Regions from separate parts of the Homo sapiens genome. Here region 2 is linked to region 1. Evidence: fine-mapped expression QTL. A gene starts in region 1. The other region holds a variant in brackets. All regions are shown on one strand. Distances are between the middles of the regions. Region 1 holds the start of TOGARAM2 (TOG array regulator of axonemal microtubules 2). Region 2 overlaps TOGARAM2 (TOG array regulator of axonemal microtubules 2).

What was found. PIP is the estimated chance that this variant, and not a neighbour inherited with it, causes the effect.
Region 2: its variant is fine-mapped to the expression of TOGARAM2 in whole blood (TOPMed, PIP above 0.99).

Annotation. Positions count from the first base shown.
Region 1 is chr2:28,975,713-28,990,825 of GRCh38, forward strand. TOGARAM2 (TOG array regulator of axonemal microtubules 2) reads left to right here and starts at 5,586. Exons shown (of 20, transcript NM_199280.4): 1 at 5,586-5,826.
Region 2 is chr2:29,000,607-29,015,719 of GRCh38, forward strand. TOGARAM2 (TOG array regulator of axonemal microtubules 2) reads left to right here. Exons shown (of 20, transcript NM_199280.4): 5 at 1,930-2,141; 6 at 2,886-3,076; 7 at 10,849-10,895; 8 at 13,789-13,955. Among named protein-coding and RNA genes, the nearest start is that of TOGARAM2, 27 kb to the left of the region's middle. RefSeq lists enhancers at 10,556-10,685, 14,712-14,761. The variant C/T (reference allele first, on the strand shown) is at 7,046.

The DNA of each region.
Region 1 (15,113 bases):
TGTTGTGAGATTCTAGGTCCTCTTCTGTCTTCTTTTTTTGCAGGGCATTTATCCTGTTTAGGTCTAGCACACAGATCTAGGTGGGATTGGATGTTCGCTTCACCACTGGGCCTTGCTGATACCATCTCAGCAAAAGCAGGATATTGCCTCACACCCCTATGCCTTTCCTCATTGCTGATGATGGGATGGAATTTCAGCTCCCCACTGGGCCCTGCTGGTGGAGGCTTTTTAAAAAAATGACAATATATGTACAGGAATATGTACATATTATAAGTATGTGAAACATATGCTTAATTTTTACAAAGTGGAAGTTTAGGAGCATTTTACACATTTTCCTATTTCTTTGCATGTTCTTATAAAAACATATCAAATTCTGGGCCAGGTGTGGCGGCTCACGCCTGTAATCCCAGCACTTTGGGAGGCCGAGGTGGATGGATCACGAGGTCAGGAGATCGAGACCATCCTGGCTAACATGGTGAAACCCCGTCTCTACTAAAAATACAAAATAATTAGCCGGACGTGGTGGCGGGTGCCTGTAGTCCCAGCTACTCAGGAGGCTGAGGCAGGAGAATGGCGTGAACCTGGAAGGCGGAGCTTGCAGTGAGCTGAGATCACACCACTGCACTCCAGCCTGGGCGACAGAGTGAGACTCCATCTCAAAAACAACAACAACAACAACAACAAAAACCCATCAAATTCTTTTTTGCCATTAGCTTCTGGAGTTATTTACTCACCTATTAACTCCTCCCCTCCCCCTGCCCTCCATCTCTCGAGCTTTCCTGTGGCTGTGGGGCAGGGAGCTGCTCTTCTCTGACACGTCCTTTTGTGGAATGGGGAGAAAGGAGGGAGAGGCACACCCCATGTGAGATGAGGGGTTGGCTTCTGTTGGGAGAAGCCCTGAAGGGCAGCTGGGGCCAGAAGCAGCATAACCAGAAGGCGTTAGTCCCCATCCTGTCATTACCACTGAATTCCTGTGTGACTCCATCATCTGCGATAAGAGGGGCTTGGCCTAGTCCTCTCTCTGATCCTGTGCTTAGGTTGCATACATTATTCTAGAGTTTCCCAGGAACTTCCCAGGGAACACGTCAGCCCAGTGGCAGGTGCTGGTTGGGAGGGGCCTGTTCTGTGTCCTTGGCAGTGTCTGAGCACCCCCACCCAGCCTGTGGTACTGACAGGGCCTTTCAGGCTCTCCAGGCTGGGGCTGGCCTTGGAGGGGGTGGGGCAGTGGTATTTTGGGAGATAAGCCAGCACAGTGTCAGTCTGGAGGCAGTGCCAGCTTGCCTCCATTATCCGCTTTTCTACCTGGGGGGGCGTGGCCTGTGAAGGGATGGGGGGCTTCCAGCCTTTCTCCTCAGCCTGGGCCAGGGCCCAGGACACAGGGCATCAGGGCTCTAAGGGACCAGGAGGTCACCCAGTGTCTGATCACAAATGACAGTTTGGAAGCCCAAGGAGGGCAGGGACTTGTTGGAGGGCACACAGTAATGGTGACAAAGTCAGGACTGGAACCAACTCTCTGTCCACTTGCCTGGAACCCTTGGCCATGCCCTATGCTAACCATCTTTAGCCTGGGGGCACCTTATCCTGAGGGATGGGTACCTGAGACAGAGATGGGGGAGGCGCCTGAGCATACCACCTCCTAGGGTCCCTACCAGGGGCCCTTGCTCCCCATGCTCCCTGGGATCTGACCTCCAGCTAGGCCTGGGATGGTCCTGGTTTATAAGGGGGCAACACCAGCCCAGGGGGTCAGAACTCCCCCTACCTGTTCCCTGCCATACAATGTATGGGGCTGAGACTCTGGTCTGCAGCTTGGATCTCAGGTCTGGTCCTGGAAGAAGCGGTGAATGTTGCAGGGGCGGGGGCTTCTTATGCCGCCAGCCACTTCCTCTCCCCACGTGCAGTCAGGTTGGTGTCGCTCTCTCAACACCCATGTGGAACCTGGCTGGCGCTGGTTCCAGAGATATAAGGCATGAATCCTGCCCCCAAGGAGCTCACAGTCTAGGTCTGTGTGGCTGGCTGGTGGGCCAGGAGAGGGGCGGGCAGTTACAGTCAGCGGATGAGTGGTGCTGTGATAGGGAAGTGCTGGCCCTAGAAAGGCAGATGAGAGGCACCTCTTTTCTAGAGAGTCAGTAAGGACTCCCCTTGGGAGCACGTGGGTGGGAATTGGCCAAGGGAGATAGGTATAAAGTGTTTTTTTTTTGGTTGTTTTTGTTTTGAGATGGAGTCTCATTCTGTCATCCAGGCTGGAGTGCAGTGGCACAATCTCGACTCATTGCAACTTCTGCCTCCTGGGCTCAAGCAATTCTCCTGTCTCAGCCTCCTGAGTAGCTGAGATTACAGGCATGCGCCACCATGCCCAGCTAATTTTTGTATTTTTGGTAGAGACGGGGTTTTACCATGTTGCCCAGGCTGGTCTCGAACCCCTGGCCTCAGGTGATCTGCCTGCTTTGGCCTCCTAAAGTGCTGGGATGACAGGCGTGAGCCACCGTGCCCGGCCGGAGATGGGTATAAGTAAGGGGTAGGAAGGGATATGGGAAAGGCTTTTGGGGTGGAGGGAACAGCATGAACAAAGGCCAGGAGAGGAGAGGAGCATGACAGCTACATCCCAGAGCAAGGGGAGAAGACCCCTCAGTGAAGTCCCTGCTAATAGCCCAGCTACGTGTTCAGGAGACTATTTGGATATAGGATGCTCAGGTCATTTGCAATGGGAAGTGTGTTCAGGGTATCTAGTCCTTCTTGTTGCTAGACATAGAAACAGCTTTGTTCACTTTACAAATCAACAAGGGCCAAGAGGACTCTTGGTGACATTTTTACTGAGGGAACAGGATCAGAATTTAGTAGTCTTCCACTGACCAAATCCATCAGCATGGAAAGTTATAGAATGTTGGTTTCTGAAATCTTGAGTAGATTTCTGGGGTAGATGGGGGCTATCCCCTGTGGATGTGGAGGGGGCTACTTATTTGGTACTTTCAAGAGCCCTCTTCCCAGCTTGTGATTCTGTATTGTGAGTCAGTTTAATTCATTCACATCAAGTATTTGTTCATCGGTTCTGGGGGTGGGAGCAGGCCAGTGTGAGCACACCCAGGAGAGTCGGGGCAATGACTGGGAACACTGGGCACTGGAGGAGACAGGTGACATCTGGTTTCCTTCATAGCTGTTGACCCTCTTCCGAGGGTCTGGCCGCCCTTCCACCAGGGGTCGATACAGGCTTTGTGAGACTCGAGGCTTAAACAATTTGGGGGCTTCTTTAAGAAAGAAAACAAAATTAAGTATGAAAATATTTTTTTAGAATGAGAAAAGAAGTCACAACAAATGACTGAGGGCTGGATTCGTGTCCCTTTCTTTCTGAGGTCTCTTCAGGGGAGTTCCAGAGAGCTTCCAGGTGGCAGCCTGGCTGCCCTCCCCACCTGGAGTGCCCCAATCCTTCCAGGCAGCTCCTGGCTCCCCCAGAGGCCCGGGGCTCAGGTTGTGTTTGCCTCAGCGGTTTCCACCCATGCTCCTCGACTGGCCTGCTCCTTACCTCGGGGATTTCATGTGGATGTCACACCTCACTGCCCCTGGGATTCGCTCTCTGTCCATGGTCACAGTGAGGGTGAGTGCGTGCTCTGTGCCTGGCGGGCACACTGAGGGTCACTGGAGCCACCCCAGGGAGGGAGGATCTGCAGTCTTCCTGCTAGGCATATGAAAGAACCAAGACTCAGAGAGTTTGTTTCTTGCCTAAGATGTCATTGCTGGGATCAGAATCCAGTCTGGAATCCAGGGGCTTCAGAGCCCTGGTTCTTAAGGGCTGTGCTGTGTTATCCATCCTCCCTTATTGCAGGTAACACAGGAACAAGCAGGGGGTTACCTGCTGGGGCCTCTCTCCATCACTCAGCTCCTGAGGGCAGGCTGTGCTGCCTCCTGTGTCTCTAGCATTTGGCACAGAGCATGGCCAGCCCACCTTGGGAACACATAATGCTCGGCCATCCAGTGGAGGCAGAGTGTGGAGAGCCCAGGAGCTGAAGGAGGATGCAGTGGGGCCTGATTAGAGGGGCTTGGCAGCCATGGTGCTAAGTCTGGCCCTTACACCAAGGACAGCAGGGGCCATGAGGGGTGTCCAGCAGGGCACGGCCATCGGATCTGTGTTCTAGAAGCTCCGACTCAAGCAGCGACATGCAGATGGGCTTTGGGGGAGCTGCACACACACCATCTCCCTGCCAGAGCTGAGGGACACCAAAACCTGCCTTGTCACGTCCCCGCCCTGGGTTCCCATGGTTGAGTCGCTCTCACTCACAAGCTGTGTGGCTTGGGGCAAGGGCTTAACTTGCCAGGCCTCTCTTTCCCCACCTGGGCATCTTCATACCTGTCTCCCAAGGGGAATCCGCACAGCCACTGTTCCTGGTTTGGAGGAAGAGTCTCCTTTCTGGGCCTCTGCTACAGGGAGTTCAGGAGTTCCGTTCGCCTTGTCAGCTGTGACCTCTGGCTTGGGGCCAGCACCTGCCCCAGAGGGACCTTGTTCTCAGTCATAATTGGCTGGCCCTCCTTGCTCCCTCCTGGATCTTGGTAAATGACAGCAGCTACTCCCAAGGCCTGCCCTCCCTGGCCATCTCAGGGAAGAGGAGAGAGTCCCAGGAAGGAGCTACCCCGTGTGCAAGCATTTCAGCAGCCCAGGCCTCGTGGGGTGTAGTTGGCCTCCCACCAGCCATCCCTGTGTGTTCCACACACCTGCTGATTCCTTTGTACAGAATATGGGGAGGAGCTGCCTGGGAAAATTCATAGTATCTTTGGGCGAGTGGCTGTTTGCAAGCCTGCATACAAATTGAGTCCTTGGCTTCCACTGTGTGCCCCCTGGATGGTGAGGGCTAGAAGGGGGTAGCATGAGGAGTGGGACTGGCTGTCATTCCAGAGAGAGGATGCCAGCCTGGGATTTCCGCCCAAGAGCCTGGGTTCAGTGAGAAAGTACACATGGGCTGCTAGGATTCACATTTTCCAAAAGTTAAGGTGGAGAAATCTGGTTGGGACGAAGGCCACAGGCTTTCTGCTCTGCAAGGATTTCTGGGGAAGTGATGGAGAGCCTACCAAGTGCTAGACAAAATTACAAGCTGTTACATGCACCTTTGAAATCCTTACAGCAACCCTATCAAGTCAGTACTATTGGTGTACCCATTTTATAGATGAGGAAACTGAGGTCAAGAAAGGTAAAGTTCTGACCAGAGGGCACACAGCTGGAAGTAGCAGGATCAGGATTCAAACCCAGCTGCCTGCTGCCAAGGCCTGGATGCTCACTCTGTCTTTCTGCCTCTAGGAGAGTTAGTAAACAGAAGCAGATTGAGCCCAGAGGCCATGTGAGCAAAACCAGGAGTTCTACCAACAACATCCCTGCACCAAGCCAGCTATGCACTTCCTGGCTGCAGTCACCAGGCAGGGGGGCCCAGTGCTCTCTCTTTCTGTGGTGTCCATGACCCTAGAGGACAGGTCGGCCACTTGGTAGTGCCTGTGCTCCGGTGAGCCACAGAGGCAATGAGACCAAGGGGAAAATCTCTCGGCTCGGTCTCTCCCCCGCGCAGGGAGCTATGGGCTCCTTCAGCGAGTGGTTGCTATGCAGCCTTGTTTATTCAAGGAGAGCTTTGCTGAGAGCTGGAGCACGCCAGCAGTGGAGCTCGTGGCCACCCAGCCCCTGCTCAGACAGGAGGCTGCGGCCCAGGACTGTGTGGCTGGTGGGGGCCAGGGTGGGCCAGGCCTGGGGCTGCCCCGTCCTTGCCTCCCTGGGCCCATGAGCATCAACGTCTCTATAGAGACCAAGGACCCTGGATTCCTCCAGTGACAGGGGTTTGGCCTCTGGACAGAGAGGTGAGAGACGATAGGTCCACCAAGCCATCTATTGTAGGTGGTGAATGGGAGGCTGGGTCAGGACCCCTGAAGTCCCTGGAGGGAGGGATAAAGACCTGAACTGGAGCAAGCACAAACACACAGAGAAAGAAAAAGCATCCTGCTGTGACTTGGAGGCTGTGTGACCGTGGGGATGTCTCTGACCCTTTCTGGGCCTTCATGTGGCAGCTCTAGGGGAGGAGGTTGGACTCACTGTTCTCTGAGCACTGGGAGCCAAGGAAGGAGGGGCTGGCCTGGGCTGACCCCTTCCCCGAGTCATGGCCTCTGTGGGCAGTGCTCTCTACCTCAGGGTGAACCCTTCACAGGGCAACAGCTCCCTGGGGTGCTGTGGGCGATGGTGCCGGGAAGGGTGGGGGCATGCTGTGGGGATGGCACCCGTGCTTAGGGGTGCTGGGGCACCCCGTGAGAGCATAGGCCTTGGAGGGGCTCTGCTCTGGGTTTGAATTCTAACCCCCCCTCTTTCTGGCTGTGTGGACTTGAGCTCTTTGCCTCTCTGAGCCTCAGGTTTCTCATCTGTGAAGAAGGGTTTAAAAAAAGCCCCCTTGGTGCTGTCTGTGAGCATGGAGACAGTCAGGAGGGCAGCTGGCACGTTAGCCCATGCGCAGAATGGAAGTTACTGTTTGTTGTTGATGCTGTTGTTAGGTGGAGATTGGCATGTTCCTTTCTGGAGCACATTTCAGTCTCCTGAAACTAAGGTTTTGCCAGTCACTTCTCCAGGACAAGGGCTGGTGCTGGCGGGGGACCTCAGAGGGCTGCCATTTCCTCAGGAGCGCTGGGAGGGGAGGGACTGGGGCCCGTACTCTGTCGGAGCATCACTGAGGCAGGCCACAGGGCATTGGTGCCTGGCCCCAGGAAGTGGTGTGAGGGGCCCATAATCGCTTCTATCCTGAACTGGGCAGTCCCTCGCTCTTCTCACCAATGCCCTGCAGGAGACGGCCCTGCAGCCTTCTAGCCACAGGCTGGCTCCCAGGACTGGCTCAGTTTCAGCCCATGGAGCCTGAGACTAACAGATTTGAAGAAAGGGGGAGGTAGTTGGGGGCAAGGGATGGGGAGATGTCAACCTGAGCTCTGGAGAGACCTGCCTCTGAGGGCAGCGCATCCTCCCATTGACCCCACGGCTACCTCAGAGGCACCAGACTCTGCTCACTAGCACAGAGGCTGGAAGTTTATTATTGCAGACAGAAGAATGCATAAAATGCATGCAGTGTGAGGAATAATTATAAAGTGAATGTCCATGTAGCCACCTCCCAGGCCAAGAAACAGAAAAACTGGCCGCCTCCCAGAACCCACCCCCGTGGGCCCTGTCCTTATCACAGCTGCCTCCCTTCCCCTTAGGGTTAATCATGCTACTAATTTTTCCTTGATTTTCTATCAAGTTTTCCATCTATGTCTGCATTTTTATTTTAATTTAATTTCGCTTCATTTTTTGAGACAAGGTTTCACTCTGTCCCCCAGGTGGGAGTACAGTGGCATGATCTCAGCTCACTGCAACCTCTGCCTCCTAGGCTCAAGTGTTCCTCCCACCTCAGCTTCCCAAGTAGCTGGGTGTACAGGTGCACACCACCATGCCCGGCTAATCTTTGTGTGTGTGTATATATAAATATATATATATATATATATATTTTTTTTTTTTTTTTTTTTTTTTTTTTGTAGAGATGGGTTTTTTCCATGTTGCTCAGCCTGGTCTCGAATTCCTGGCTCAGGTGATATGCCTGCCTTGGCCTCCCAAAGTGCTGGGATCACAGGTGTGAGCCACCACGCTGGGCCTATGTATGCATTTCTAAACACTCGATGTAATTTTGTCTTTCTTTGAACTTTATAGAAGTAGGGGCATACCCTGTGTGGTCTCTTGGGTCTGTCTTCTTTCACTAAACATTACGCTGTGGCATCGTCCATAGTGTTGAGTGGGGCAGTCGTTTGTTTCATTGCTCTGTAATATTCTATGTTGTGAGTGCACCATGATTTAGTCCTTCATTTTCCTGTTGGACATTTAGATTTTTTCCAGATTTTGGCCATTATCCATGGCACTGCTCTGGACACTCTCGAGCTCCTTTCCTGGATCACCTGTGCAAGACTTTCTCAAGGGTGGGTTCCTAGGAGTGGAATTGCTGAACATTAGGTTTGTGCATTTTTAGCTTTATCAGGTAAAGCCAGACCACTTTCCCAAGGGTTTGTGCCCATTTGCATCTCACCTGCCAGCTGTCATGAGTGCTCCCATTGCTCTGTGCTCTCACTAGCACTTGGCATTGCCGCCCATCTCAATTTTTGCCCATCTTTGTGGGATGGTGGTAGCATCTCATTTGCATTTTCTTGATTACCAGGGGGTTGAGCATCTGCCCCCAGCCATTCTTCCTCACCTCTTTCCTCCTCTGTTGGGTGCCTCCCTTCCTCTGCTCTCTGTGATCTCAGCCCCTCATGGTGCTCAGGCTTTTGAGCCCCATTTTTCTCTCTGCCCTCCCCACTCCTCCATCCCTCTCCTCCATTCTTCTTCTTGGAGAACCAATCACTATTCCACATACTTCTTAGTGTTTGAATTACAGACCCAGGCTCCAGAGCCACTGTCTGGAAGTCTGAGTTTCCCATTTCGTGTTTTAAAACCTCTGGTTCTTGGCCCAACTCACATCCCTTCCTGGGTCTTGGATTTCTCTTCAACAAAACAAAGACAGAAAAAAAAATGTCCCTCCACAGAAGCCATTTATATTTCCCAGGCAAAACCTGGTGTATGTCCTGGAGAGGCACACACAAAACTCTGGCTCCTATTCAAGAAAGTCGGCTTTCTCATGGGCCATTGGGAAGGGACAGGGCCGGGGTCTGAAGTCTTCTGAGCTTCTTGCAGGGAGGCCTTTGCCAAGAGCCCTTTCCTGGGGTGTGACAGACATTCAGATGCTAGAGTCATGCCAATACACCTTTGCTGAGACTTTGGACAAGATGCTTTCTTGCTTCCTAGTCCCTTCTGATCCTCTGAGTACATGTGCTTGTTTACAGTCTACAGTTTGAAGATTCAAGCTCCTGCTACTGGGCAGGAATCCTCAACTGATCAGCCAAACCCTGCAGAAGGCATTCCTGGGGCAGTGGACCAAGCCATTTTTCATTCGAGACTCCAGGACTATGATCAAGTGCTAGGATAACTCTTACCTTGATGGTGGAAATCTCAGGGCCAGCAGAAGACTTCCAAGCCCCAGCCAATGGCTGTGTGATTTCAGGCAGGATTGATGCGGTGGTATCCTACCCCTCCCAAAACCTTAATCCTTGGGAGCACACTACACAGGCTCTGACCAGGCACTGTAGTGGCAAGGTGACCATTTTGGGGAGGCCTTGATGGGAAGCTGGAAAAGGAAGCTTTCCTCCCAGTCCTGCTGAAGGCCTTGCCAGCTGGCAGCCAGTGTGATGCCTATAGGGGTATGGGCCCTGGGATAGGTATTGGCTCCTGATGGCCTTATGTAGGTGTTATAGACTGAATGCATGCGTCCCACAAATGCAAATGTTAAAGCCTAACCCCCCATGTGTTGGTATTAGGAGGTGGGGCCTTCGGGAGGTAATTAGATTCAGATGAGGTCGTGAGGGTGGTTGTCTCATGATGGGTTAGTGCCCTTAGAAGAAGAGACCAGAGAGCTTGCTCTCTGTCTCTCTCTCTGCCATGTGAGGACAAAGGGAAGACAGCTACCTGCAATCCAGGAAGTGAGTCCTCACCAGGAGTGGAATCAGCTGGCACCTTGATCTTGGACTTCCCAGCCTCCAGAACTAAATTGCTGGGGTTTTTTTTTTGTTTTGCTTTTCATTTTTTTGTTTTGTTTTTGTTTTTGTTTTAAGTCGGAGTTTTGCTCTTGTTGCCCAGGCTGGAGTGCAATGGTGTGATCTCGGCTCATTAACCCCTCATTTACAAGGGAGGAAACTAGCTGACCTCCAAGGCCCCTTCCAGCTTGAAATTTAGTAACAGAAGAAAGGCATGGGAAATTCTGTTAAATTACTAGACCAAGTTCTGATTAATCTCTAATTTATATTTGCACCAACACGATACACAAAGGTGGGGGCAGGTTCAGAAGATTTTGAATTTTGTAAATTTGTGTATAAGTTACATACGCTTTGTTACTAGGACCACAGCCCACTCATATGGTTCCTTTGTGAATTAGAAAAAGATGTCTCTTTCTCAAGACACTTTTCTTCTATTCATCAGAAAAAGACTGAAATGAATGTACAAATATGTACAGTCATCGTCTAAAACAACATTGCCAGGACTTTGGAGAAGATGTAGTGTGAGGCTTATGCCTGTAATCCCAGCATTTTGGGAGGCTGAGGTGGGTGGATCACTTGAGGTCAGGAGTTCGAGACCAGCCTGGCCAACATGGCAAAACCCCGTCACTACTAATAATACACACAAAAAAATAACTAGCTGGGCATGGTGGCACATGCCTGTAATCCCAGCTACTTGCAAGGCTGAGGCAGGAGAGTTGCTTGAACCTGGGAGGTGGAGGTTGCAGTGAGCTGAGATCATGACACTGACCTCCAGCCTGGCCGACAGAGTGAAACTGTGTCTCAAAAAAAAAAAAAAAAAAGATGTAGTGTGAGAGATGTCTCCTTAATTAGGATGCCCTCGTGCAGTGCCCAACCTAGACAATCAAACATGGCAGCCCTGCTTGTCACTTATCTCATTGTTTTTCAAAAACAGCCTAAATAAAACTTTCTCTCCCCCTAGGCTTTCCTATGTCTTTTAGACTGTTAATTCTCACATCAGAATTTCCTGGGGTTGTGGAGGGGGGATGTTTTAAATGCTGCGGCCCATCCACCCCCAACCCGAGATACCCACACTGAGCTGCTATTACAAATGGATGGCCACATTCCTCGGCTGCGTTGGGCATAAAACAGTTGGGAAGTGCTGCTTTGGGTTTCTGACCACTTCCTCTGCCCTGTCCTGGGAGGTCATTAGATTCAGGTGTGAACTGCCTCCTGAACAGACTGTTCTGTTAAGAAAGGTTCTTCCCAGCAACGTGCTACTTGACCCCTGTTGTAAGTGTCCCGCCCCAGCCTGCCCACTGCTTCCTGCTCACCCTGGACAGCTCAGGAAATGGAAGGACCTCCTGCTGCACAAGGTGGCACCTCCGTGTTGCTGTCCAGCCTCAGCCAGGCCTCTGTAGCTTCTTGGCCCAAAGGCTTTCAAAAGGGACATTTCCCCTCTTCCTGAACATCTGAACACAGCAAAACAGTTACTAAACAACCAATACTATTAATAGCCACTGTGGATCGAGCCCTTGGGCCCAATCAGCCTATTAAATGTTTCTCATATTTTGTGGAATATTCTCAATAACCTTGGAGATAGATATTATTATTTCCATTTCGCAGTTAAATGGAGACTCAGAGAACTTTAATCATGTGCCTGAAGTCACACAGCTAGCAGGTGATGGAATTTAACCCTGTTGACTCCTGAATGAATGCCCTGAAATACTGCCACCTCCGTGAACAGAAACCATCAGCCCCGACTCTTCTACTTAGTAGCTCTGTGGCCTCAACCTAGTTACTTAACCTCTCTGAACCTCAATCATCTTGTCTATAAAATGAAGATGAAAATACATACTTTCTTTCTCTATTTCCAAAGCTCAATGACATAGTATTTGGAAGCACACTGTAGTACATTGCCCCGGGCGCAAAGCAAAATGGAACTAAGAAATGTTAATTCCTTCACTTAGGTTCTTCTCAATAAGACTGTCTGGAAGATGTGCTTTAGTGTTTTTTTATGAGACGGAGTCTTGCTTTGTCACCTAGGCTGGAGTGCAGTGGCATGATCTCGGTTCACTGCAAACTCCGCCTCCCAGGTTCACGCCATTCTCCTGCCTCAGCCTCCCGAGTAGCTGGGACCGCAGGCATCCACCACCACGCCCAGCTAATTTTTTGTATTTTTAGTAGACATGGGGTTTCACCATGTTAGCCAGGATAGTCTCGATCTCCTGACCTCGTGATCCGCCCACCTCGGCCTCTCAAAGTGCTGGGATTACAGGTGTGAGCCACCACACCCGGCCAATGTGCTTTAGTTTTGAATTCATTCATTCAGTCACACTACAGTTACTGCATTATTGCCATGAACCTGGCACTGTTTGTCCCTTTGTCTGCATTCTGTGGAATTGCTGGCTGGCTGCACCCTATATTGTCTGAGAACAGAGTGGCTACAGGAGTATTAACCCCACCTGATCTCACGATGGGAGAGGAGACGCCATCTGCAGCAGTGGTGGTAGACCCAGAGCTGGTAAAGAGTTGTGGTGGGGGGCTTCTCATCTGCGAACGGCCTTTCTGCTGGCCCCCACATGCCAGTCACAGCTGGAGTCAGGGGCCTGAGTGGCGGGGGGCCTTGGATGCCCCCACAGGGGGTCTGATGGGTGTGGACATCAGTCTCGCAGTTGGGGGTGAAGTGGCTCTTGGGACTGCCAGCTCTAGGAGTGGCCGAGTTGAGGGTCAGTGTGGAAACCAGCCCTGCCCCAAGCTAATAAAGATGGACATGCAGGTGGAGCCATCCAGGCCTCCTTGCAGCTTGTCTGCAGCTCCAGAGAGGGAGGTCTGGGCTCTACGGTAGGCTTGGAAGTCCCGATAATCAGATGGCAATTGAAATCACAAGGGTAGGTGCTGCCTGTAAGAAGCCCTCCTAATAAAGATGGAGGCATCTGGGAGAGGAAAGGAAAGGAATGGTTTGGTTCTTCTAAAGTCAGAATATGTCTCCGTGACTGTTCAGAACTTCACACTCCTGAGTCCAGCTCTCATGTGCAGCAGACTCACCTCCCTCTTCACTGCCAATATCAAGGCCGTTCTACGTGCCCTTTCTCTCTTCCTGACCTCTCCCTCTGTAGGACCCTTGGCTCTTCCTCCAGGGTCCGAGGACTGGTGCTCCCATCTGGCCCAGCCTGTGCCCTTCTCCCTCAGCTGTTAGCACTGGGCTCCCGCTCCATCAGCTCCCCTCCCTCCCCTGTGTCTTCAGCCTTTTCCTTCTGACTCTTTCTCCTCCTCCTGTGAACACGCTCTAGAATCTCCTACCCTGAAAAATACAGAGAACAAACAAGCAAACAAAAAATACAGAGAACAAACAAGCAAACAACACAGCTTCATCCACCCTTCATTCCCCTCCAGCTACTCTCCAACCTCTCTCCTGCCTTTCTCATCCAAATTCTCCAGCGTTGTTTGGACTCACCATCTCTATACCTTCCACTCACGCCTCAGACCTCAGCAATTTTCTGTGACCCGCATGCCTCCACAGGCACAGACCTTGCTCTCACTAAGCTCCCGATGATTCCATAATGGTCACATCCAATTGGCTGAGCTGACACCTCTAACCACTCTCTGCTCATCTGGCTCTCCTGGCGCCAACTCCCCTGGCCTCCCTGGCTGTCCTTGATCAGACCCCCTTAGGGTCTCCCCTTCTCTACCCATCTCTGCTCAATGCTGCTGCTCCCTGGGATGTTCCTTAGCTCTGGGCACTCTCTTGTGGTCAGGTTTTTGTATTTTTATTTTTTGAGCTGGAGTCTTGCTCTGTCGCCCAGGCTGGAGTGCAGTGGTGTGATCTCAGCTCACTGCAACCTCTGCCTCCCATGTTCAAGTGATTCTCCTGCCTCAGCCTCTTGAGTAGGTAGGATTAAAGACTTGTGCTACCACACCCAGCTAATTTTTGTATTTTTTGGTAGAGATGGGGTTTTGCCATGTTGGCCAGGCTGGTCTCTAACTCCTGACCTCAAGTGATCTGCCCACCTTGGCCTCCCAAAGTGCTGGGATTACAGGTGTAAGCCGCCATACCGGGCCCGCTTTTCATATTTTATTGAATGCAATATTGAAGTGAGATAAGCATTATCTCCTTTTTTTTTCTTTTTTGAGACAGGGTCTTTGTCGCCCAGACTGGAGTGCGGTGGCACAATCTCAGCTCACTGCAGCCTCAACCTCCTGCGCTCAAGTGATCCTCCTGCCTCAGCACCCCCAAGTAACTGAGACTACAGGCACAGGCCACCACGCCTGGCTAATTTTTGTATTTTTGTAGAGATGAGGTTTTACTGTGTTGCCCAGTACTGTGTTGCCCAGGCTGGTCTTGAACTCAAGCGATCTGCCAGCCTTGGCCTCCCAAAGTGCCAGGATTACAGGTGTGAGCCACCATGCCCAGCCAATTTTTGTATTTTATAGAGACGAGGTTTTACTATGTTGGCCAGGCTGGTCTCGAACTCAAGCGATCAGACAGCCTTGGCCTCCCAAAGTGCCAGGATTACAGCAGTATTTCCACTTTGCAGTTAAAAGAGCTGGGGCTCAGAGAAGTTTAGCAACGTGCCTTCAGTCACACAGCTTGCAGGTGCTGGATTTTAGTCTTATTCCCCTTCATATCTTAGTACCTATGGCATGTTTGAATGAATGAGTGAATCTCACATTTTCAGTGGCAGGCCGAACTCTGGAGGTCAGAGTCTCATAAGTTGGTCACCTGACAACATCCAGAGTCCTCCCTGCAGGTCTACGGCCTGGGCTGCCTCCCATGAGGGGAGCAGAGGTGGGTGGAGGGGTGAGATGTATGTGTATGGTGATTGGAAGCATGGGTAGCTGTTTCTTGTCCACAGGGAGACAGCACGAGATACAGGAAGGCATGTTCTGTCCAGTCTAAACCCTGCGTATAATCAGTGTGAAATCCTGGTTAAGTTGTTTATTTTCTGTGCCTGGTCCAGAGGCTGGGCTGACATCTCTACATGTCAGTGCTGTAATTCTCTCCGAGGCTCCCCTTCCTTAGGAAGTCCTTCCAAGGCCCCACTTGAGGGGTCTGCATGAAACTGCAGGTCAGATAATGCCATTCCTCTCCTTGCACAGTCTTCAGAGTTTCCCGGGGCTGCAGAGCAAGCCCCGACCCTCTCACAGAGCATTCTGGGTCTCCCCCGATGGCCCTCATCCCGCTCCCCGGGCCTGGATCCTCTTGCCAGACCCCAGACTCACAGGCGCATCTCCTCCACGCTTGCCTTAGGCCGCCTCCTCGGCCTGGAATGCCATTCCTCCTTCCTACCCGTTTAGACCCCATTTCCTACCCGTTTTGATCCTACTTCCAGGCCCAGCACGGATGCTGCTTTTCTGTGGAGCCTCTCCGGTGCCCTAGTCAGACAGTATGGAGGGTATCCCTGAGTGCTCATCTCTGTAGCAGGGTTACTTTGTCCTGTCGGGCGTGACAGTGAACGTTCACCTTCTCTGCTTGGCATTACAGACAGCATTCGCTTAGAAATGTGGGCTCATGGGTGAGAGCTGGAGGGGGTCGA
Region 2 (15,113 bases), 25 kb after region 1:
TCTTGAGGTCTTAGGAAGAAAGGGGAAGTGCTCTCAAGAGGCACGTGGTTGCTGCCGTCAAGCCTGGGGTTGTGGTTGGCTGTTCTTCCCCTCCCCTGTGCAGACTGCTCCACCTGCTGAGCCTCTCCCTGGAGCCGTGGGGTGTCTCCAGCTCCCGGGGAGCCCAGGACAATGCCAGGGAGCCTCTGGGAGGAATTGTCCTGGCTGCACATTATGGAGGCAGAAGGTGGGGTTGGAATGCCCGAGAAGCTTCCTTAGAACTTCCAGTAGGTACAACTCCTAGAGCTGCCAGACCAACAACTCTCTCCCTTAGGGGCTTGAAGCCCTTTTCTAGATATTTCATTTCTTTTTTACAAAGTTCCAGCATAGGGAAAAAAAGAATGGAGTTGTTCTACCTAATGTTCTGATGGGCAGTGACCTATAGACTTATCAGGCCCCTCAGCAAGCATGGAGGGCCGGGGATCTCTGGCCCCCGGGCAGTGCTGGGGCTGCTCTGGCCCCTGCATTGAGGCTGAGTTGACTCCTCTGTGCCCTGACCCAGCTGGGGCTCAAGGTGGCCCGGCAAGTGGCACAGTCTCCACTTGACCACACCCCTTCTTTTCCATCCTTTCAGCTCCCCACAGGCTAACCACAACACAACAGTGCTCCAAGACAGAACAGAACCAGCACCGGAAGCCAGGAGGGGAGCGAGTGTGCAGGAACAGAGATGATATTTTGACTTGGCTGGTTTATTTTTTTTTAATTTTTTTTTTCTGGAACAGAGTCTCGCTCTGTCACCCAGGCTGGAGTGCAGTGGTGCGATTTTGGCTCACTGCAACCTCTGGGTTCAAGTGATTCTCCTGCCTCAGTCTCCTGAGTTGCTGGGATTACAGACAACCACCACTAGGCCCAGCTAATCTTTTTTTTTTTTTTGAGACCGAGTCTTGCTCTGTTGCCCAGTCTAGAGTGCAGTGGTGCGATCTCGGCTCACCGCAACCTCCACCTCCCAGGTTCAAGCGATTCTCCTGCCTCAGCCTCCCCGGTAGCTGGGACTACAGGCATGTGCCACCACGCCCGGCTAATTTTTAGTAGAGATGGGGTTTCACCATGTTGGCCAGGCTGGTCTTGAACTTCTGACCTCCAGTGATCCTCCCGTTCTCGGCCTCCCAAAGTGTGTGGGATTACAGGCGTGAGCCACTGCGCCTGGCCTGACTTGGCTGTTTTGATGCAGTGGTTTTGTTGAGGCCAGAATGAAAGTTAAAATGCTAGTCTTTTTTTTTTTTTTATTCCTCATCACTGATATTTACAAAGATAACCCTGAGCTCTTGGCCCAACCCAGTGCTTCTTGCCCTGTGCCTTTGCCTGAGGCATGGCTGTGGGGTGAGATGGGGTGGGGCACAGGGCGCTGAAGATGTCTGTTGGGCACCTAAAGCATTCAGAGGGGAGCTGGAAGTGTGGCGGTCTGTCTTAGACTATGTTAGCTGTGTCAAAACAGCTACGCCCCACATCACCAGCCGAAAAGGAAGGGGAAACAGTGGCAGGTACTTGCCTGGCATCTTATATAAGTGATGTTATTGAATCACCCCATTTCACAGAAGTGTAATGGGGTTCAGAGAGACAGTGCCTTGCTCGAGGTCACATAGCTTCTACCCACGGCCAGGACCTGCCATGCTTCCTCCTGATCTGGCACTGCTTTTATTTCCCTTCCTTCCCACGCTGCCTCTGAATTCTAAACAGGTAACTTGGATTGGCCCTTTCTGGAATGGCACAGACACTCAGAAGTGGCTGCTTGCTCAGTCTACCAGTGGTGGGGTTGGGGACAGATCTGATCTCTCTCCTCGCCATCCCAGTCCTTCCCAGGGCAGAAGGCCCCGTTGCTGGGGTCTGAATCCACCTTCCACTCCCTGTTCTTCTGGGACTAACTGATTTCCCATCCCCATCCCTGTACAGCCTCTCTGGATCCAGGGGGAGGCCCCCAAGGAGTTCCCCTGCACAGCACCATCCCCCGAGCCACCTCTCAGAGGCTGCTGAGGGTGCCCAGGCCGATGCCTCTCATCCAGAGCATCCCTACCACCCCTGAGGCCAGCGGAGTCAAAGAGAAGGGCCTGGACCTACCGGGGAGCATTCCGGGTCCTCACGAGTTGAGACCCGGTGCTCAGGAGGTAAGGTGGTTCGACTGCTGTGAGTCTGGTCCTCAGCTTCTTGCCCTCCCTTCCTCCTGCCTTTCTTTCTAGCCTCCACCAACCCCTGACTCCATGCCCTGAGCATCCCTGGAGGTGTCTTGAGGTCTGCAGTGAGGATAGGGACAGCACTGGGAGAGGCTCAAGGTGCTCATTTCACCACCTCCCCCAGCATCTCAAACCTCCATAGCTGGCCTGGGGGCTCTGGGTGGCTGTGCCAGAGGCTGCATGACCTTTGTCCTAGAACTGGTGGTCCCCTAGGCCTTCTCTGGTCTAAATGTTCCAGAATTCCTCCTGCTTTCTGGCCCTCTCCATTTTAAGCAAGAGTGTGGCAAAGAATGCTGGGCTAGGACTCAGATTTGGGCCTTGGTTTCTGTTTGCCCCTCACTGGCTGTGTGACCTTGTGCAAGTCACACCCCTCTTTGGGCCCCAGTTTGCACATCTATGAAAATAGAGGTTTGGCCCAGATGTGTTTGAAGGTCCTTCCAGCTCTGATGTTCTAGGATTTTTCTGAAATGAGAACAGAAAAACGAATAATAATAGTCACAAAAGGGCTTGCCAGTCTCCTCACCAGGAGTGGTAAGGAAGCAGTCAGGCTTCTGGGGGTCCCAGGGTGGTGTGGCTGAAAAGAGACAGCAGGTCCCACACTGTGTGAGGTGCCTGGAGGTGAGCATTCACCATGGGATGTTGCCATAGGCCAGACCCCTGTCCCGCCTCTGCTCCCAGGCGCAGATCTCCTGGCAATACCTGCACTGCAATGATGAGAAGATGCAGAAGTCCCTGGGCGCCATCGTGATCCCACCCATCCCAAAGGCCAGGACGGTTGCAGCGACCCCCTCCCGTGTGCCTGGCTCCCTTCCCAGCCCGTTACCTCCAGGCCAGGGAGTCCTCACAGGCCTGAGGGCCCCACGCACGCGGTAAGAGCTCCAAGTCAAACCTTCCTTGCTGACTTCTCTCCCTCTGTCCCCCTGAGATCCACTGGGGCTCCTTGTGGCTGACCCTCCATGCTGTGGCAGAGTTCTTGGGACACCAGGCAGGGAAAGGGCTGGGGGCTCCACCCATGAGCCACAGACCTAGGGAGGTCCCAGCATGGTTGCCGGGGCTTCTCTGCCTCTTGGCTCCGGCAGGCTGGGTCAATGGCATCACGAACAATGTCTCCAGCCTCTGTCTTCTCCCAGTGCCTTAGTGGATGAGGTTGCCGGAGTAATGAATAAAACACTAATTATTTTATCTCATATATATAATTTTGAGATGGAGTCTCACTCTGTCGCCCAGGCTGGAGTGCAGTGGTGTGATCTCAACTCACTGCAACCTCCGCCTCCCGGGTTCAAGCGATTCTCCTGAGTAGCTGGGATTACAGGCACCCACCACCATGCCCTGCTAATTTTTGTATTTTTAGTAGAGACGGGTTTCAGCATGTTGGCCAGGCTGGTCTTGAAACTCCTGACCTCAGGTGATCTGCCCTCCTTGGCCTCCCAAAGTGCTGGGATTATAGGTGTGAGACACCGTGCCCGGCTATGAATAAAACACTATTTTAAAGCATGATTGAGTTCATGGCAGCTCTTTGTAATTAAATATTTTCTTAATTGATGGATACTAAAAATACAACCAGTATCATGTGTATGGGGGACAGTCCACAAACTTTTGGACTTGAAAAGGGGTCTTCATATCCCACAAACAAGTGGGGAAGAGGATCTTTGTGTTGGCATAAATCGGGTTATGGCTTGTAAGTAAGACAGTGCTCTAGATGGCCAGCAACATCCCCGTGGTCAGTCCAGAGTGATGTCAGAGCACGTGTGTGTGAGAGTGAGTGTGTCTGAGTGTCTTTGTGTGTGCACACATGTATGAGTGCCTGCAGGTATGTGTGAGTGTATGTGTATGAGTGTGTATGTGTGCATGTATATGTGAGTATATGCATGTATGTGAGTACAAGAGTGTGTGTGTCTGAGTATGTGTATATGTGTGAGTGCATGCATGTGTGTGTGTGTCTGAGTGTGTGTGTGCATGAGTGCAAGAGTATGTGTCTGAGTGTGTCTGAGTGCATGTGTGGAGTATGTGTGTGCATGTATGTGTATGAGTGCATCTGTGTGGAGTTGTGTGTGCATGTGTGTGGAGTGTATGTGTACATGTGTGAGTGCATGTGTGTGCATGTGTACGTGTGTGAGTGCATGTGTGTGCATGTGTGTGCATGTGTATGTGTGTGAGTGCATGTGTGTATGTGTGTGAGTGCATGTGTGTGCATGTGTATGTGTGAGTGCATGTATGTGAGTGCATGTGTGTGCATGTGTATGTGTGTGAGTGCATGTGTGTGCATGTGTATGTGTGAGTGCATGTTGTGAGTGCATGTGTATGGGTGTGTGTGCATGTGTATGTGTGTGAGTGCATGTTGTGTGTGAGTGCATGTGTAAGGGCATATGTGTGCAGTGTGTGTGTGCATGTGTGTGGGTATGTGTGCATGTGTGTATATGTGTGTGGGACCATGTGTGTGAGTGCATGTGTGTGGAGTGTGTGTGCATATGTGTGTGTGTGCATGTGTGTGTGTGGGGTATGTGTGCATGTGTGTGTGAGACCGTGTGTGTGCATGTGTGGAGCGTATGTGTGAGAACGTGCATGTATGTGGGTGCATGTATGTGGAGTGTGTGTGTGCGTGTGTGAGAGCATGCATGTGCGTGAGTGCATGTATGTGAGAGCATGTGTGACTGCATGTGTGTGCATGTGTGCATGTGTGTGAGTGCATGTGTTTGTGTAACTACGTGTGTGAAGCCATGTGTGGTGTGTGTTCATGTGTGTGGAGTGTGTGTGCATGTGTGTATGTGTGTGAGGGCATGCATGTGTGAGCATGCATGTGAGTGCATGTGTGGAGTGTGTGTGCATGTGTGTATGTGTGTGAGGGCATGCATGTGTGAGCATGCATGTGAGTGCATGTGTGGAGTGCGTGCATGTGTGAGTGCATGTGTGCATGTGTGTGAGCACATATATGTGTGTATGTGTGTGTGTGAGTACATGTGTGGAGTATCTGTGTGTGCATGTGTATGAGTGCATGTGTGTGAGTGCATGTGTGTGCATGTGTATGTGTCAGTGCATGTGTGTGCATATGTGTCAGTGCATGTTGTGAGTGCATGTGTATGTGTGTGAGTGCGTGTGTGTAAGTGCATGTGTGTGGAGTGTGTGTGTGGGGTATGTGTGCATATGTGTATTTGTGTGTGAGACCGTATGAGTGCATGTGTAGGGTGTGTATGTGTGCGTGTGTGTGTGAGACCATATGTATGTGAGTGCATGTGTGGAGTGTGTGTGTATGTGTATGTGTGAGAGCACGTGTGTGTGTGTGGGGTGCATGTGTGTGGAGTGCATATGTGTGTGCATGTGTGTGAGAGCATGCATGTGCGTAAGTACATGTGTGAGCATGTGTGACCACATGTGTGTGCATGTGTGTGAGTGCATGTGTTTGTGTGTGTGACTGTGTGTGAAGCCATTTGTGGAGTGTGTGTGCATGTGTGTGGAGTGTATATGTGTGCATGTATGTGTGCATGTGTGTGTGTGAGTGCCTGTGTGTGGAGTGTGTGCATGTGTGTGTATGTGTGTATGTGTGAGTGCATGTGTGTGCATGTGTATGTGTGTGAGTGCGTGTGTGTGAGTGCATGTGTGTTCATGTGTATCTGTGTGTGTGCATGTGTGTGCATGTGTATCTGTGTGTGAGTGCATGTGTATGTGTGAGTGCATGTGTGTGGAGTGTGTGTGCGTGTGCTCAGGGCCTATGGGCCTGGCTCCTTCAGTAGAGTCACAATCCAGTTCCTGCTGTGACTGCTTCCCTCCCGTTTCTTGGGGCCTGATGACTTGGATTCTTCCATTTTTCTCACACTTCCTCATTCCCTCCATCTCCCTGGTGCCTTCCCTCTGTGCACACACATATTCATGTCTTTCTCCGACCCTGTGGGTTATAGAGACCCGTCCATGTACCTGCTCCTGGATTCGAGTTCTCTATTCAGTTTTCACCGTCAGCCTCCTCAGACAGCAGCTTGCTCCACTGACCTCCGCCTCCTCACCATTGCACACGTCCTCCCCTTTCCCACTCAGACGCTGGCCTCTTCCTCCCCTCGGAGCAGCCTTATCTGTGCCTCTCATGACTCACTGGCCCCAGACCTGTGGCCTTTCCTCTTATCTCTTTACTCTTGACTTTTTTGCATCATTTGAACCATGGATGGCCCTTGAATTTTTCTTCTTTTTCTGCATCCTGACTTTATACCTGCTTCTCGACCTTCCAGGCAGCTTCCTGTGTGCCCTCTTCCATTTCTAAGTTCTGCCATTCCCAAAATTGTTCCAGGACTGTTTGCCCCCATCTCCTGTTTTCTCCTGGGGCCCTTATGTGTGCCCAAGTCTTCCAGATGGTGGAATGTGGGTGAGTTCACATCTCCTGCTCTAGCCCTGGAACCATCCACAGGTCAGGCTCCGGGTTTCCATCTTTCTGTTGGGCATCTCCAGTTTCTCCTGGCTGATGTGATCCAGCACCAGAGGGAGAGACAGGGAGGTTGTGCCACCATCATGGCAACAAGGACCACCTCGTGTTTCCCCAAACCACCCCCTCCCAAGACCTCCTCATTGCTGTCAAGGTGCAGACCTTCTTCTTGGCCTTCAAGTCTCAGTGTCATCTTTGACCCTTGCTCCTAGTGCCTCCTGCTCCAACACATTTCCATAGCCCCCAAGTCTTTCTTAACAGCCATGAAAGCTCCACCCCTTTCTTGCCCCTGCCTTTCCCTCTTGGTTTGTACTTCCGCTTCCTTCTTGACCTCCCCTAATAGTGCCTAGCCAGTATCCTTGCAGCCCTGTGCGCTCCATCCCCATCTTTCATTTTCCTGCTTCCCCCGCCACCTTGCACACCTCTTGCAGGC[C/T]CTTTGCCTGTATTGACATTCCTGATTGAATGAATGGCGGGTCCTTTGTGTCAAGGACCCAGGCGCATAATGCTGAGTCTCCTTGGCCTGACAATCAGGGTCCATCCAGCCCACGACCCCACAGTTCCTCCCCGCTGTCCCCCAGTGCTTGTTCTGTGGGGCCTTCTTACCCCTCCAGACCCTGAGGACCTATTACCATTTCACTCATCCATCCATCCATTTACGAGGGGACATGGTGCTTCCCCTCGTCCATCTCTGCAACCCCAACAGCCTCTCACCCCTTTCCCCACCCATTCATTTCATCTCCACTGTTCCATGTCTACCTACTCTCCCTTTAAAGGGCGGCAAGGAGGGGAAGTGGTCTTCTCTGCATTGTCCACAGGCATCCAGCCCAGGGACTGCCTCAGCCCCTCCCTTCCATTAAACAAAATAAGCAAATCTTGATTATTTAAATTTATTTTGTTTATTTATTTTGTTTTATTTATTTGTTTTTTATTTTTTATTGTTATTATTTTTTGAGATGGAGTCTCACTCTGTCACCCAGGCTGGAGTGCAGTGGCACGATCTTGGCTCACTGCAACCTCTGCCTCCTGGGTTCAAGCAATTCTTCTGTCGCAGCCTCCCGAGTAGCTGAGACTACAGGAGCATGCCACCATGCCTGGCTACATTTTGTAATTTTAGTAGAGCTGCAGTTTCATCACATTGGTTAGGCTGGTCTTGAACTCCTGACCTTAGGTGATCTGCCCACTTTGGCTTCCCAAAGTGCTGGGATTACAGGCGTGAGCCACTGCACCCAGCCAATTAAAAATATATATATTTTTTTGAGATGGAGTCTTGCTCTGTTACCCAGGCTGGAGTGCAGTGGCACGATCTCTGCTTATTGTAACCTCTGCCTCCCTGGTTCTAGTAATTCTTCTGCCTCAGCCTCCCAAGTAGCTAGGATTACAGACATGCACCACCAGGCCCGGCTAATTTTTGTATTTTTAGTAGAGCTGGGCTTTCACCATGTTGCCCAGGCTTGTCCTGAACTCCTGATCTCAGGTGATCTGCCCACCTCGGCCTCCCAAAGTGCTGGGATTACAGGTAGAAGCCACCGCACCTGGCCAGCCTATTTTATTTAAACCTCATTCTGTTCTTTAACTTGGAGCACCACAGGGCAGGGGCCATATGTCAAAAACCTCTGTGGCTTCTGTGGGGCCAGGATTGGTACCTGGCATGGATTAGTTCCGTAATAAATATCTGTCCTTTCCTGTTTGGTTTGTGACATGGATTTCCCTTTGTTGACAATGTGGGGCTCTCTAGCCAATGGAGGGGATGGAGGCTCTATTACCATTTCAGTCATCCATCTGTCCGTTTACTCACCTAAAAGCTGTTAAGCACCTACTATGTGCCAGGTGCATAGGTCACAATCTGTGTGCTCCAGCCAGGAAGTCATCAAGGTGAAGTTCAGAGAGGTGGGTGCGTAGGCGAAGGCTGCCTGTCATGTTGGTGACCCAGGAGAAAGAGATCTGAATCATGCCAGGCAGACTTCTCAGGGCAGGATGAGGGCACACTTGCGAGATGGAGATGGAGGTGGAAGAGGGAGAGACGGAAGGAGGAGTGAGCCCCTGCATCCTTGCGTGACAGCCTGCGGGGTGGGGGTGAAGGGCCTGTGTGCCAACTGAGAAGTGGGAGCTTCATCCTCCTGTAAGGAGGTGCCACCAAAGGCTTTCGGGTGTGAAAGTGGCATCTGCTGTGACTTAGAAAGGCCATGTTGGCAACCTCAGAGTGGCATGGACCGTGTAGATGGAGGTGGGGCTGCTGCAGGAATCCGGGGAGAAGGCAAAGGGTGGCTGAGCAGGGCAGAGGCAGGGAGTCTGTGGGCTGAGGATGCAGAGGTGGGGGCGGGGCGGGATGAATGGCAGGGCTAAGCCACGGGGTAGATGTGGGCTGAAGATGGGGGAGCTGAGACCATGCCGGGGTTCCTGGCTTCAGCCACTGGACAGATACTGGCACCCTTCTTGGAGACAGGGCATAGGAGAAGAGGCAGGTGCTGGGGACAGTGCTGAGGCCACTCTTGGACATGCTTAGACGTTTGGGTTGGAGCCGGGAGGGGCTCTTGCTGGAAACAGGGCTTTGCTGCTCCTGCTCCACCCACCTCCTTGGGGCCTGCGGAGGAGCCTGAGCGGTGGTGGGTTTTCTGTGAGGTTCGCACAGGGTGGGGCGGGGCTGCCACGTGCAGGAAGGCAGGGGCCCTGATCGGCATGGCCTGTCTTGGCCTCAGTCCTTTCTGCTGTGGGGTCGCTAGAGAAGGGGAGGGCAAGAGGCTTCCCCAGGGTCCACAGCTTAAGAGAAGCTGCGCCAAGTCCTCTGAGGCCAAATCCCTTGCTCAGAGCAGGTGTGTGTGTGTGTGTGTGTGTGTGTGTTGGGGGGGCGCAGAGCGGGGGAGGCTGCAGCTCAGGGCCCCAGGGGCAAAGCCGAGGCATAAGCATTGGGGTTTTTGGCATCCTGTGCTCACCTCAGGCAGCCTGGGACCTCCATGAGCTCATAGAAGCCAAGGGCAACTGTGTGGACTTTGATGCTCCACTTCCCCTCCCCGCCCGCCTCCAATCCTCTTAGTGCCGTTGGGCAGTGGTTAAGCAGTGGTGGGTTACAATGGCAAAGGCCTAGTGGGCGAGCTCCCCAGGTCAGGGGTGCCCTGGAGCATTCGCTTACTATCTCCAGCCCACACGATCCCTCCCTGTGGGTCCAGACCCAAGAGGCTGGGCCTGGCCCTGGGAGCAATGGCGAATCCCGGCTGATCTACGCCCAGGTTGAAGCTCCGCTCCTCCTGTGGACTCCCCTGACCTCCACAGTCCCCAAGGATCAGGGTTCCCCTGCATCCAGGCAGGCACTGAGGGGGGCTGTCCTACCGCCCCTCCTGCAGCCCGGCCTGGACTGTGATCCTCTGAGGCCAGTGTGTGGGATATTGTGTTCCTGACCTGTTGCTGTGGCTTGTTACTCTGTCAGCCCCCCAGTGGGTCCTGATGTCCACCGAGAAGGGAAAGCCATGTAGGACGCTGCAGGGCTGGTCTCCATGGGAACCTGAGCTCCCGGAGGGCGGGGAGTGTCATGTCTTATTGATGCTCCATTCCCAGTGTCTAGAATAGTGCTTGACACATAGTAGGTCTTCAGTAAATATCTGTTGAATAAGTAAATGGTGCTTCCAACTTAAGAAATTACAATTAAAACCAGTGCCAGGGATGCCACTGTCTTCCCCCTCCTGTGGGTAATTGGGATTGAGCTTCTGGTACAAAACAGTGGTGACTTCCTGCCACAGCAAAGGGGATCAGCTCCGCCCCCCAGGCCCTGGGATGGGGATTACAATCACGAGTGGGACTATTTAGGGGTCACTGAGCTCTCACGGGGTTGGGGCAGCTTGGAGAACTTGAGCTCAGTGCTGTCTAAGCTGGGAGGCAGTTTACCCTTGTTTACTGCAGCTGCTGTCAACTCCACAGGCCCAAGCAGCACAGCGGGAGGGTGGGGGCTTCCTTTAAGTCAGCAGTTTCTGTGTGGGTGTCAGCCTCCTGGGGAATGCGCGAGCTGCACTGCCAGGAAATGGGGCTGAACCTGGCCTGGTGGTCAGCCTGCCCTTGTGTTTGCAGAGGGAGCTGTATCTCCTGCAGCTTGAATCCTGGGCCAAGAGCCTCTGCAGGGATAACAGTGCCGTCCCCTCTGTCCCCCATCTCGGCCATTGCCCCATCCTGGAGCCACCCTGGGCTCCCCCAGCAGTGTCTCTGGCTGGCCATCCCTCATGATGCTTTTCTCTCCCCCGTTCTTTTAAGATTGGCTCGGGGGAGTGGGCCTCGGGAGAAGACCCCTGCATCTCTGGGTACGTATCTTCCATGCACACCTCCCTTTGTTATTTGACTCTCTACATTCCTGGGCTGGGTCAGGGAAACAGAATTAGGGCCAGAGGAGATCTGAGAGCTCTTGTGTCTGGGCCCTTCATTTCACAGCAGGAAGCTGAAGTCACCGGAGGTCTAACCGGAGGGTGGCAGCGGGCCCGGGCGAGGTGTGGAAGAGAAGTGACATTTATTGACACCTGCTCTGGTACGTCAGGTGTGATGACGTACACCAGCTTGTGCAGCTTGCCACGGCCTCGATAAGAGAGACAATTCTGGCCGTGTGTGACAGACGAGCTGGCACACGAAGGCTCTGTGAGCAGGATGTCCTCCCTGGTCGCTGAGCCCCATCAGGCTTGCAGCCAAGTTTCCACGGCTCCAAAGCTGGGGTCTTGACACATCAAGCAGCTGCCCCTTGCGGTGTGTTAAGCAAGTAGAGAGAGTATTCCTCACCTAGAGAATGAGAGGGTAAACCAGAGCCCACAAACCTCAGCCAGCTGGCCCCAGGAGCTTTAGCTGTCAGGATATAGGGCCAGCACAGGATTGAGGCGAGGAGAGGGGACAGGGCAGGGTAGGAGGCCTTTAAAGAGGGAGGAGGGATCCTTCCTGGATTGAACTCTATGGGGAGGTGGGACGGGTGGATGGAAGCTGAGCCTCTGCTGCAGGGTTGGGGAGCAGAACACCCCGAACCCAGGCCAGGGTGGGGAGGAGTTGGAGGCAGCCGCTCTACTGCCCGGCAGGAGGGGTGGCCTCCCCAGGACCAGCTTCCTGGCAGGTCACTCTGCTAATCAGCTCAGCTGGTGGGGCAGTTGGCGAAGGGGGGTGGCTGTTGCCCAAGAGGCCCTGGGATCAAGACACAAAGCTGGACCTGGCACAAGAAACCTCTGCGGCAGCTGCTTCTCCCCTGCTCCCGGGCCAGGCTGCAGCAGGGTGAGCTCAGGCAGTCTGTGGCGAAATGCACCGGCACCCTGAGTGACCTTAAGAGCTAACCCGGAGGACGCTGGTGTGGGGGTTGGGCCAGGAGACCCCAGTCAGTAACCACTTCCTCCCCTGGCTCTCCAGCTTGCTGCTTGAGAACCAGGTCACCAGGGACCTGTGGCAGGGGCAGGCTGCTCAGACAGGGCTTTCCAGGGCATCCCTTTGGGGTGGAGGTGAAGAAGTGACATAAAAAATAGTTAAGTCCTTAAAGGGCTCTCTGCCCTCCAGCTGGCAACTGGGCTGACACTGCCCTCTGTGTGCAACATGCCTAGCACATGGTAGGGGCTCACAGGGTCTTGTCTGAAGCTGGGGGCTTCCTCACATCTGTGGCATTCCTGCAGTCCTTGCCCTGGCCAGGTGGTGCCTACCACATGTGCCCTCTGCTCTGCCTCTTACCTCTGGGCAGATGAGGCTTCAAAGCCCCTCTTCCCCCTTGGCCCTTGATCCTTCTCCCTGCACCAAGCAGAGGAATCCTTTGCAGAAGACATGGCCTGGGCAGAGGACCTGGGTGACCTGGGAGCTCTGCACGGGCCCCAGAGGTAAGATGCCTTTTCCAGCCTCAGGCAGCCTCAGCTGGTGGCCCCATCTCAGCAGACCCCTGACTTGCAGGTTCACCCAAGGACAGTGAGCTCCAAACCCTGTGGGTGGCAGAAAATGAATGAACCTGTTTGAGCCCTGCCTTCATAATGAGAAATGTACCTTTAAAATCCGCTGATGGGGAAGATATGAATGACAAAGCAATACTGTGGATTTGATGCCATCAAGTGGAAGTGAACGGGTATTTTATCCATCCCAAGAGCATTCGAAGGTTACTGGCTGTATTAGTCAGGGTTCTCCAGAGGGACAGAACTAGTAGGATATATGTCTGTATATAAAGGAGTTTATTAGGGAGAATTGGCTCACACGATTACAAGGTGAAGTCCCACAGGCGGCCATCTGCAAGCTGGGGAAGAGAGAGGCTGGTAGTGGCTCAGTCCAAGTTCGAAAGCCTCAAACCAGGGACGCCAACAGTGCAGCCTTCAGTCTGTGACCAAAAGTCCGAGAGCCCCTGGCAAGCCACTGGTGCAAGTCTCAGAGTCCAAAGGCCAAAGAACCTGGAGTCTGATGTTTAAGGGCAGGAGGAGTAGAAGGAAGCGTCCAGCAGGGGAGAAAGCAGGCAGCCAGAAGACCCGGCAAGCAAGGTGATCCCACCTTCTTCCACCTGCTTAGTTCTAGCTGCGATGGCAGCTAGCAGCTGATTGGATGGTGCCCACCCACACTGAGGATGGGTCCTCCTCTCCCAGTCCACTGACTCAAAGGTCGATCTCCTCTGGCAGCTCCTTCACAGACACACCCAGAAACAATACTTGACCAGCTATGTAAGCATCCAATCCAGATGGCACCTAACATTAACCATCACACTGGCTCTCAGCTTTTCCGTCTGTGAAATGAGACTGGACTAGTGTTAGATCTCTGGTCCTGGCAACTCTGCCCTTTCCTGCTGCGTCATGCTTTCAGGCAAGCCCATGGTCATATGAAAGGATTGGTGGGCCCATTTTGCTTTTTCTTTTCCTGCCGTACGTACCTCCCAGGACAGATACACTTACTTATATTCTCAGGAAATGTCTTACATCTCCTGGATAACACATCTGGCCCTGTTTCCCGCCCAGCCTCCCCAATCCCACACCTATCTTGGAATAAAGTGTGCAGTGAATGAACGAATGGAGGGTGATGCTGGTCCACAGGTAGTCTGTCTCATGCCTGCCAGTGCTGCCCTGTACAGTAAACCTAACTCAGGTCTTGCTCCATTGAGGAAGAATTGAGGGTGTGGGGCTTAGCAGTAGAATTGAGCCAGCCACAGGGTCAGTGAGCTCAGCAGTGACCTGGGTGTCTTCAGCTCCACCCCTGTTCTCAACCCCTCAGAGCCAAAACCTTTGGCCTCACCCATCAGAGACAGGCCTGCCGCTGCCAAGAAGCCTGCCCTGCCTTTTTCTCAGTCTGCTCCCACGCTGACAGCCTTCTCCTTTGACTGTGCCAGAGAAGCCTGCCCTCCGCTGAAAGAAGAGGACCAGAAGGAGATCGGCACCAAGGTACCTGGGGAGCGGGAGGAGGAGGAAGTGGGGCTGGAGTGGACCGCAGGCTGCAGGAAGGCAAGCAAGTGTCTGAAGTATTCAAGAGTGGGACCAGCCACAGAGCAGAGCAAGGAGAGCCCGAGGCAGCCACCCAAGTACTAAAGGCCAGAACCTGCAGACGGGGTTGGGGTGAAGGCTGAAGAAAGGAAGAGAAAGGATGGGGGTCAGAAGCGGGGTGGGGAACTAGGTGCAGGGAAGACTGCAGAGGGTTGCTGAAGGGGTAGGAGGGAGGAAGGAAGGAGGACGGGGAGGTTGCACAGGGCTCACGAGGAAGCCGGACGTGGGGAGAGAGCAGGAAGCCTTAGGTGAACTGCGCTGCGTGGTTTGAACTAACACCCAAGATAGCAAATGAGAGGCAGCTGACTCAGGGCTGATCAGCCACGGGCTGTGCTCCAGGGACTGGCGAATACCTCACACTTCTCAGGTGACCTTGGAAGGTGGTCTCTTCCCTGGTTGGAACGAATTTAGTGAAGCTTGGGGAGTCACTGTAGTGAGGAGCCTGTGCTCATTCTTTGAGACAGAACATTCCAGGTCAAGAAGCATATCTTGAAGGCCTCCTGGGTGCATATTCTCTGTTAGAGACTGGGTGACTGTTAAATCAGCACCACAACCCTCCCACTGTAGAGAGGACCACAGAACAGGAAACACAAACAATGATTCAGTGCAGCGAAACGAGCTGATCCTCCACCCCACTTCTGCGCTCCCTCCTGTGGCCACATCGTAGGCCTTGGCATTCTAAAGTGTGTCCCCCCACCATGGTCTCAATTTCAAGCATCCCATTGGCTCACCACCTTCTCCTGCTGTTCTGCTCAATCCAGCTAATCCTTCAGTTCCAACACTTGTTCCCTCTCTGGCATCAACAATATTCTCCTTGAAACAGGATCATTGCTATCAGCATGTTAGCTCTCTGTTACCTCTTTCATTTTAAGAAAGCGGAACAAAACCAAGAGAAAATGATTGCCGTGTCTCTCTTCTCTCCTTTGTCCACTCCTGACAGGCATTAGTCCACACTCCCCACTGAAACTGCCCACATTGGAGTTGCCAATGACCTTCATCTTCCCAAATGCAGCCACGGTTAGTCCTTGTCTACCTTGACCCCATCGCAGCTTTTGATAC